Regions from separate parts of the Homo sapiens genome. Here region 1 is linked to region 2. A link means that fine-mapping ties the variant in region 2 to the expression of a gene that starts in the linked region. Tissue or cell type: unexposed skin. Region 2 holds a variant in brackets; the other region holds the start of a gene. All regions are shown on one strand. Distances are between the middles of the regions.

What was found. PIP is the estimated chance that this variant, and not a neighbour inherited with it, causes the effect. A credible set is the group of variants that fine-mapping cannot tell apart.
Region 1: it holds the start of SPINK1, and the variant in region 2 is the best candidate, but not a certain one, in a credible set for the expression of SPINK1 in unexposed skin (GTEx, PIP 0.79).

Annotation. Positions count from the first base shown.
Region 1 is chr5:147,829,890-147,834,136 of GRCh38, forward strand. SPINK1 (serine peptidase inhibitor Kazal type 1) reads right to left here and starts at 1,782. Exons shown (of 4, transcript NM_001379610.1): 1 at 1,634-1,782. The coding sequence starts at 1,688. LOC124901101 (a long non-coding RNA gene) reads left to right here and starts at 616. Exons shown (of 2, transcript XR_007058987.1): 1 at 616-981; 2 at 1,520-1,722.
Region 2 is chr5:147,906,395-147,910,636 of GRCh38, forward strand. C5orf46 (chromosome 5 open reading frame 46) reads right to left here and starts at 144. Exons shown (of 4, transcript NM_206966.3): 1 at 38-144. The coding sequence starts at 107. The variant C/T (reference allele first, on the strand shown) is at 1,527.

The DNA.
Region 1 (4,247 bases), 77 kb before region 2:
CTATTTCCTTGAAAACAGAAATTATGCACTTACTGCTGGAAATGAATCAGGCACTGAGCAAATTATCTTTTGAATACTCACAAACATTCTCAAAACCAGTTACTAGATCTTTAATCTCACAATTAGTGAAGTATAATTTTTATCTCAGTTTACAGATGAAAGTATGGAGAGTTTTTATAACTAGCTGTGAAACAGTTATCATAAGCAGTAACCAGGTCTTCTGATGCAAAGTTAGCTTTTTCAATTACATTTAAATTCCCTTTTGTAAGTATTGTTGAAAAAATAGAGTTCTTTTGCCAACTCACTATCAGTTCCCAAAGAGCTATTTCCAACAATTGCATCATATGGACTATGGGTCTAACTCACATTTGTTGAATTTACAGGTAGTCAAAATAGCTAATCTCTATTCCCCCAGAAAATAGCAGAGGTTTTGCTGACAACATATAGGAAATGATAACTGTGGATAAGTTCATGGAAGGGAAAGGGAACTAATATGATAGCAATCAAATAAGGAAACATTCCTGAAAATTAATTTTAATATCATCAATCTTTGAGGTGATCTGAGCAAAGAGGTAGTTCTTTGTATCTAAATGTAATGAAAATTAGTGAGGCATCTATGAGCTTGGAGAATTTCCCCCGGGATAGTCAGAACTTGATGTTGTTGGGGGCCCACTGGCTTTTAGAATCTAGTTGAGTCTAAAAACTGAAGAGCAGGTGCTCATCACAGGCATCTATTTGTATTAATTAACATGCATGAGGAGGGGGAAAGGGAACACTGACTGTTGCCATAAATATTCAGCAAATAAAACAAACAATATTCTTCCTCTTCTTAGCAAAGTGCTGATTTGGCTCTCCACAGGATCCTTCACTACATGAGAGGTGAAGTTGAAAATGTTAACCATTTCCAGTGATAAAAAGGAAACTGATCTTGGCTCTGCGGGTTCAGAGTTGTCTGTCAACATTGTCAAGATGCAGTTGGAGGTATATGTGCACCATCTATTCAAGCAGAATATTTTCTTTCAAAACATTCAAAATGTGTAATGTAAATACACAAAATGCAATTTTTGTATTTCCAGATACTAATAAGAAATACCAGGAATTGAAAATAAAAAATTCCCTTTATATCACATATATTAGCTATTCAGGGATAAATCTGACAAACTATACATGATTCAAGTACACTGAAACCTATACAATAAAAAAATAAATTTTTAATCAGTCAAATTATGCCTTTTATACTGAATAACTGGAAGCCATTTATCTATTTTATGCAATCCCATGAGAATTTAAAATTTGTAATTTGGCCTTACACATTTACAGAATGAGAAGTATACTTAAAGTTAAAATATTTTTACCCTTTTTTCTCTACCATATCCCAACAAAGGGTCAGCCACATCAATAGAGGAAAACCATTTTATTTCTGGGAATTTCTTACTAGTAGAATTGTTTTCCTTATAGTAGGTTAAAAATTCCTCTTAAAAAATAATTCTTACCTGTTGATTTTATTTCATCTCATTAGGTCCAAAACATCTCTCGAAGACTAGACTACATCAAAAGTCTAGAAGATAATGTGCTTCACAAAGCAACAGGTCAAAACAGTTTTATTTAAATTTGAAAAATATGCAACACTTACCAGATAGACTCAACAGGGCCAAGGCACTGAGAAGAAAGATGCCTGTTACCTTCATGGCTGAAGTTCTGCGTCCAGAGGTCAGTTGAAAACTGCACCGCACTTACCACGTCTCTTCAGAAGCCTGGGACTGGAAGGGTCATATGGCAGATGGCAGCAAGGCCCCACCTACTGGGCTATATCACAGATCTCCCTGGTTATTGATTGACTCTGTGTCATAGCCTGGCCTCCAGGTTCTGGGAATGTCACCTGTGTAAGAAAGGTGAAAGGAGCCAGGTGGGCCTGAAACATGCAAGGCAAAGATTCTGTCAGGAAAATAGTTCTAGTGGTTAGTTTGATCCCTAACTCCCTCTGTGGTTGTGGGAAAGTCATTCCCTTCTCAAGCCTGTTTTCTCACCTGTAAGATGAACTCAAAGATCCCTTCTACTCTGTAGTTCTGGATAGATGAGCAGGTATGGATAGCTACTAGAAAGAATTTTATTCCAAGTAGGGTAAAACCTCTCCATTCTTTTTTCCTTTCCTCCACTCTTCCTTTCTTATTCTTCTTTCTCTTTTCTCTATTTTTCCCTCACTCATTCACAAAACCTAAAGTAGCTGATGGAGTGGCAGATGAGAGGGAAAGAGAAAGCAAGAGAGAGAGAGGACTCAGTTCCCTAAAGCGTGTATTCTGGAGCTAGAGGGTGCTTGTTGGAGCCACTTTTGCTGTGCTTCTGTGTATTCATCTGGAAATTAAAATAATAATAACACCTAATTCAAAGGGTTACTCTTTCATCTGAGAATATGTGCTGGGTAAAAGAGAATATGTGCTGGATATCTACCATGTGTTATTAGAAGAGAATTCTCCATCCTCTCTCATGTTTTGGTGTGTCTTATGAGTAGAGGTACTGATAACCTTTGTTTCAGACTATCTTTTTAAGGGTGTTTATATAACAAACGACCTTAGAAAATACGTAATGTCTCCCTCTGCACCAAAAGGCAGGTTTGTTTACTGTTTAGTGTAATAAAGTTAATATCTCCTTCTAGGGCAAAGACCATGTTAATTGCCCTTTACAAAAGATTTCGGGTTTTTAAAAGCTTGGCCTTTCTTTCCTTTAACACACTGTACTTTCCCTGCAACTATCACTTGATGCCCCTTAAATTGGCCTGTGGAAATTGGGGCTTGGGAAACCAGAACAAATTCCAATACTCTGGCTGTTGCTATGGAATAATTAAGTCCCTTTTCTCTGAGCCAGGAGTCTGTGCCTTCTGCCAGAAACCATTATAATGTGGCAGGCTAACTTCTTAGCTTCCAAGTAGGATAAAATCTCAAACCCTTCCCAAGTCATGACAAGAACTGTATTTATCTCTTAAGACAGATCAGTAAATAAAAATAACAATCTCTGTCTTCATGGAGCTTCCATTGCCTTTTTGTTGAGGGAGGCAAGTGACAAAAAATAATAAGTGATTATAAAATATATCAGATAAATATTATGGAGAAAAGGACAAGAAGGATAAGGGTGCTGGAGGGTTAAGGAGATATGTATCATAGCGTAATCAGAGAAGGTCTTGCTTTTCAGGTGATATCACACAGAGACATGAAGGAAATGAGGATTTGAACTATGCATTTATTCCAAGGATGTGCATTCCAGACAGAGAGAATAGTAAGCGCAAAGGTTCTGAGGCTGACGCTGGTTTGACATGTTTGAGAAACATCCAGGAGGACACTCTGGCTTGAGCAAAGTGATAGAGGGCAAAATGGGAGATGAAATAATGGAAGCAGTGAGGGTCTAAATCTAGTGCAGTCTAGAGTAAGGACTTTGGTTTTTATCAAAGGGAAGCTTTGGAAGTGTTTAGTTCTTGAAATCACTATTTGGATGTTTTACAGCTACCTCAAATCTAATATGTTCCATACTACTATTTTGATCTTTCACCACAATATTTTTGTCTCTATTCTCCCTACAGCTTCTTTTCTTTCCAGTAGATCACTCAAGCCCAAACCTCGTTGTTCTCCCTGATATTTCCCTTTCCCCTTTCTATGCATCATCTTCCACACTTAATTTGCTACCAAGTTCTCTTCTTGGATTCATGTTCAAAATAACCTCAATCCTGGACACTTCTCATTAGCTTCCACTGTCATATCTAAGACAATGCCATCCTTTCCCCCTGGGTTTCTGCATTTCCTGCAAAGAGTTTCTCAATATTTGTTGTTATTTCTTCCTTAAAGCTGCTGCCCATAGAAAGGCCCATAGGGATCTTTATGGACTGCAAATTTGATCATGTATCTGTCCAGTTTCTCATTGTTCAGAATGCTCAGGAAGAATTTAGGTCCTGTATGACTTGGCTCCTTTCTATCTTTATTCCCCAAGAGATTCTTCCTTGCTCAATCTGGTCATTTCCTTGCTACGTTGGTCATTTCTCTGTTACCCTTTACTAGGACCAACAAAACAAAATAATACAAAACAGCTTTTCACCTTCTAAGGTTAAAAGGTTAAGTGGTATTTTCTCAAGAAGCCATTCTTTCTGGGTCTTCCTTTACTTCTTTCTGCATCTAGATTATTCCCTCCTATTGTACGATCTTCATAAAACCCTTCATTGCACTTAAAATAATTCCAACTCTATAGCTATTCATACGATTATT
Region 2 (4,242 bases):
ACTGAACAATTCATGGGCTGTGATCAGAAGCACTTACCTGCATAGCAGGTCAGGAATAAGACAAGCAGTCCCAGGACAACTGTCAGGCGAAGTACTGAGACAGCCATTCTGGTAGCACGGGGTATTCGTGCAGATAAATTGTTCAGATACATGTGAAACAATGCTCCATTTATAGGGCATAGATAGGTGACATCATCTGCTTTGGAATTTAGATTGTTGCACAAGATGTCTGCACAGCTTGCTTTTGGATCTGTACTAATGAGACATACCCTATCATTCAAACCAAACATTTTACATATAGGGAAAGAAAAACCCTCTTGATTTTTAAAATTTGTATCTATAAAGGGTTCTGGAGTGAATCTCTTGAGGCTAGTTTCAAGGCCAGCATTGATAATTAAAGGGATATCAGGTAGAATTGCTCGTCAGTGCCAAGCAGCAGGCAACAAATCAGATTGGCAAGGCAAGCCTACACCCTCCCTTTACACTCTATGCCTTCCCTCGTGCTCTGGGACAATCCCTTGTTCCCACATGGGCATGCCCTTTCACACCCCATGCGTCTGCTCTTGCTCTTCCTTCTTCCTCAGATACCCTCCTCCTTGTCTCCCTTCGGATCACTCCTACGTATTCCTCAGTTCAAATGGTCCTTCTTTGTGATACCTTCATGATAACCACTCCACCCTTCTCCAGGCAGTTTGTTACTTCATCATCTGCCCTATAGCACACTTGACCCCATTGTATAAGAACTAAGTGTTGGCTGGGCGCGGTGGCTCACACCTATAATCCAAGCACTTTGGGAGGCTGAGGTGGGCGAATCACGAAGTCAGGAGTTCAAGACCATCCTGGCCAACATGGTGAAACCCCGTCTCTACTAAAAATACAAAAAATTAGCTGGTCGTAGTGGCAGATACCTGTAATCCCAACTACTTGGGAGGCTGAGGCAGGAGAATCGCTTGAACCCTGGGAGGCGGAGATTGCAGTGAGCGGAGATCACACCACTGCACTCCAGCCTGGGTGACAGAGTGAGACTCTGTCTCAAAACAAACAGAAAACGACAACATAAACTGTCTTATTTATTTTACTTTTATTTTTCTCTTTTTTTTCCATCAACTTTTATTTGAAGTTCCAGGCTACACATGTAGCCAGCAGGATGTGCAGGTTTGTTACATAGGGAAACATGTGCCATGATGATGATTTGCTGCACAGATCAACCTGTCACCTAGGTTTCTTTCTTTCTTTTTTTTTTTTTTTTTTTTTGAGACTGAGTCTCGCTCTGTTGCCAGGCTGGAGTGCAGTGGCGCGATCTCAGTTCACTGCAACCTCCGACTCCCTGGTTCAAGTGATTCTCCTGCCTCAGCCTCCCTAGTAGCTGGGACTACAGGCATGTGCCACCATGCCCAGCTAAGTTTTGTATTTTTAGTAGAGACAGGGTTTCACTATGTTGGCCAGGATCATCTCAATCTCCTGACCTCGTGATCTGCCCGCCTCAGCCTTCCCAAGTGTTGGGATTACAGGCGTGAGCTACCGTG[C/T]CTGGCTGGCACCTAGGTATTAAGCCCAGCATCCATTAGCTATTCTTCCTGATGCTCTCTTTCCCCTTGAAACCCTGACAGACCCCAGTGTGTGTTGCTCCCCTGAATGTGCCCATGTGTTCTCATAGGAGAACTAAGTGTTTTAACAGCTCTCTTCTCTTTCAGCTTGTGGATCCACTTATTTGTTTATTGGCAAAATATTGTACATATTCGTGGTGCACAATATGATGTTTTGAAATATGCATATATTGTGCAAAGGCTATATCTGGCTATTTAATACCCAGACTACTCATACTTATCTTTTTTTGTGTGGCGAGAACACTTAAAATCTGCTCTCTTAGCAATTTTCAAGTATACAATACAATGTTATTAACTATAGCCACCATGATGTAAAATAGATGTCTCAAACTCATTCCTCCTATTTAGCTCAAATTTTATATCTTTTGACCAACATCTCCCCAATCCCTCCCACTACCCAACTCCCGGTCTCTGGTAACTATCATTCTACTCTTTGCCTCTGTGAGTTCATCTTGTTTAGAGTCTGCATGTAAATGAGATCATGTGGTATGTATTTGTCTTTCTTTGTCTTTCAGTGCCTGGTTTATTTCATGTAACATCATGTCCTCCAGGTTCAACTGTGTTGCAAATGATAGAATTTCCTTCTTTTTTAAGGCTCTATAGTAAATAGTATTCCAGTGTATACATATCATGGTTTCTTTTTCTATTCACCTGTTGATGGACACTTAGGTTGATTCCTAGCCTGTAGGTCTCAAGAGAAGAATGTTTTATTACTGCTGAATCCTCATGGAGCCTACTCTATTGCCTGGTCTTGGTCTCACCTTTGACTTCACCTCCTCTGAAAGTTTGTTCCGGTTTTTCCAAATAGAGATAGATGATCCTCTGATGTACCTGCTAGGTCCTTTTTAAATGTCTTTACCAATAGGCTGTAGGCTTCTCGAAGGCAAAACTATCTTTTTTAGAGTTGAATACATATTAACTGAGGCACATGGCAAATACCAAAACACATACATACACACACACACACAAAACAAAACAAAACAAAACAAAACAAAAAAACAGCAGCAGAAGAAAAAATAATCTGGGAATTGATTAAGACCAGTCTTTCTCCCCGACTGCCAGACTCCATTGCCTTGGTCTCTATACCCATACCCATCACCATGGTTCCCCTTGAATAAAGTCTACCTTACCATCTTTTTTTTTTTAAAAGAAATAATTAACTGGATTAAATATATTTGCACTTGGTGAAACAGAATGTTGGATTTGAGATGCTGCTATGTATTTCAGATGTAAAATAATCTCCCTTTGCAATACACGCAAGAGAATAAAGTTTGGTTCAAGTCTAGATGATATTGGTTATCCTGAGGAATGCTATAAATTCATTTAATTGGAATGTGGACTTGGGAATACCTAAACTTATTGATTTACCAATACTTATACTTTGCATGTGTCAAAATACCATTTTATAAATGGGAAAGTTAACTAAAGTATGGACAAAAGGAGGTTCATCCAGCATCTCAGAGCCAAGGCTAGGGCAATGTTTCTTACTTACTAGTTATACTCTTCACAAGGCACCAAACCACTTCTGGAACATAATCAGGCAGCTCTGTTGCACCTTGTGTGGTGTGGCCTTCCAAGGCCTTCCCAACGTATCTTCTCAGGAAAACACTGGTCTTGTCTCTCTTGCACAAAGGGTTGAATCTAGACTCTAGACTCTAGATCACCACTGTTTGTATAGGACAGACAAGGCCAGAGTCTCTAATAAAATCTAGACATTAAAAGGCCTTCATTGAGGTAGATTTATGTCATCAGGGTCACTACTGATGACTGAGCACTGTGATTGTCCAAGAGGCTAGTAGGGGAATGACATTCAAGTGTCCTCTATCAGTTAGGCCATGGATCCTGACACATTGCTGTGTTTGCCTGGGAAAGGGTACATATTTTTCTAATCATCACAAGGGCACTCTATAGATAAGAGCAGGCTGTAGATACAGCAACTTAAGACAGAAATTTGCTGGCTTCTTAGGAATAGCAGCTGGACAGGGCAAGCAGACAAATCCTAAATCAGCTGCTTTTGGAGGTCTGGTGTCAAAAAGCTAGCACTGTCCTGAGTGTCAGGATAGCTGGCCTCGATTCCTGTCAGTAACACTAGCTCATTGCATGGTCCTGATTCAATACCCTCCGTTTTCCCTGCTTCTTGTTCTTATTCTTTCTCTCCTCTTGGTTTGTTCCTCATAGCTTCAGGTCTCAGCTAAAATGTCTTGTCTTTGGTGAAAACTTCTATGACTCTCTAATCCAATTCAGATCCCTATGTGATTAAGTTTTCTACACTCTGTATTCTTTCTTCTCAGCACTTAATTTTTGATGATTTAATGTCTCTCTTTCCAAGGAATGTTAACATCTCAAAGGGAAGCATTCTGATCAGTCTTGTTCAGGGAGATGGCTTTGCTGTCTAGGATAGTGCTTTGTTTGTAAAAGATACCCAACAAATATGCATTGAATCAATGAGCTAATAAACAATTCTGAGAAGAGGAACCAGGTTCTTTTGGTTATTATCTGTGTGACTCTGGCAAATGACAGGTACCCTGTGGGTCTCAGTTTCTACATCTGTAAAGGGACATAATATAAATTTCTGCCTATATATCAGCACCATTGTAAGAATATAGGAGATAAAAATGAAACACCTGATAACTGTAAA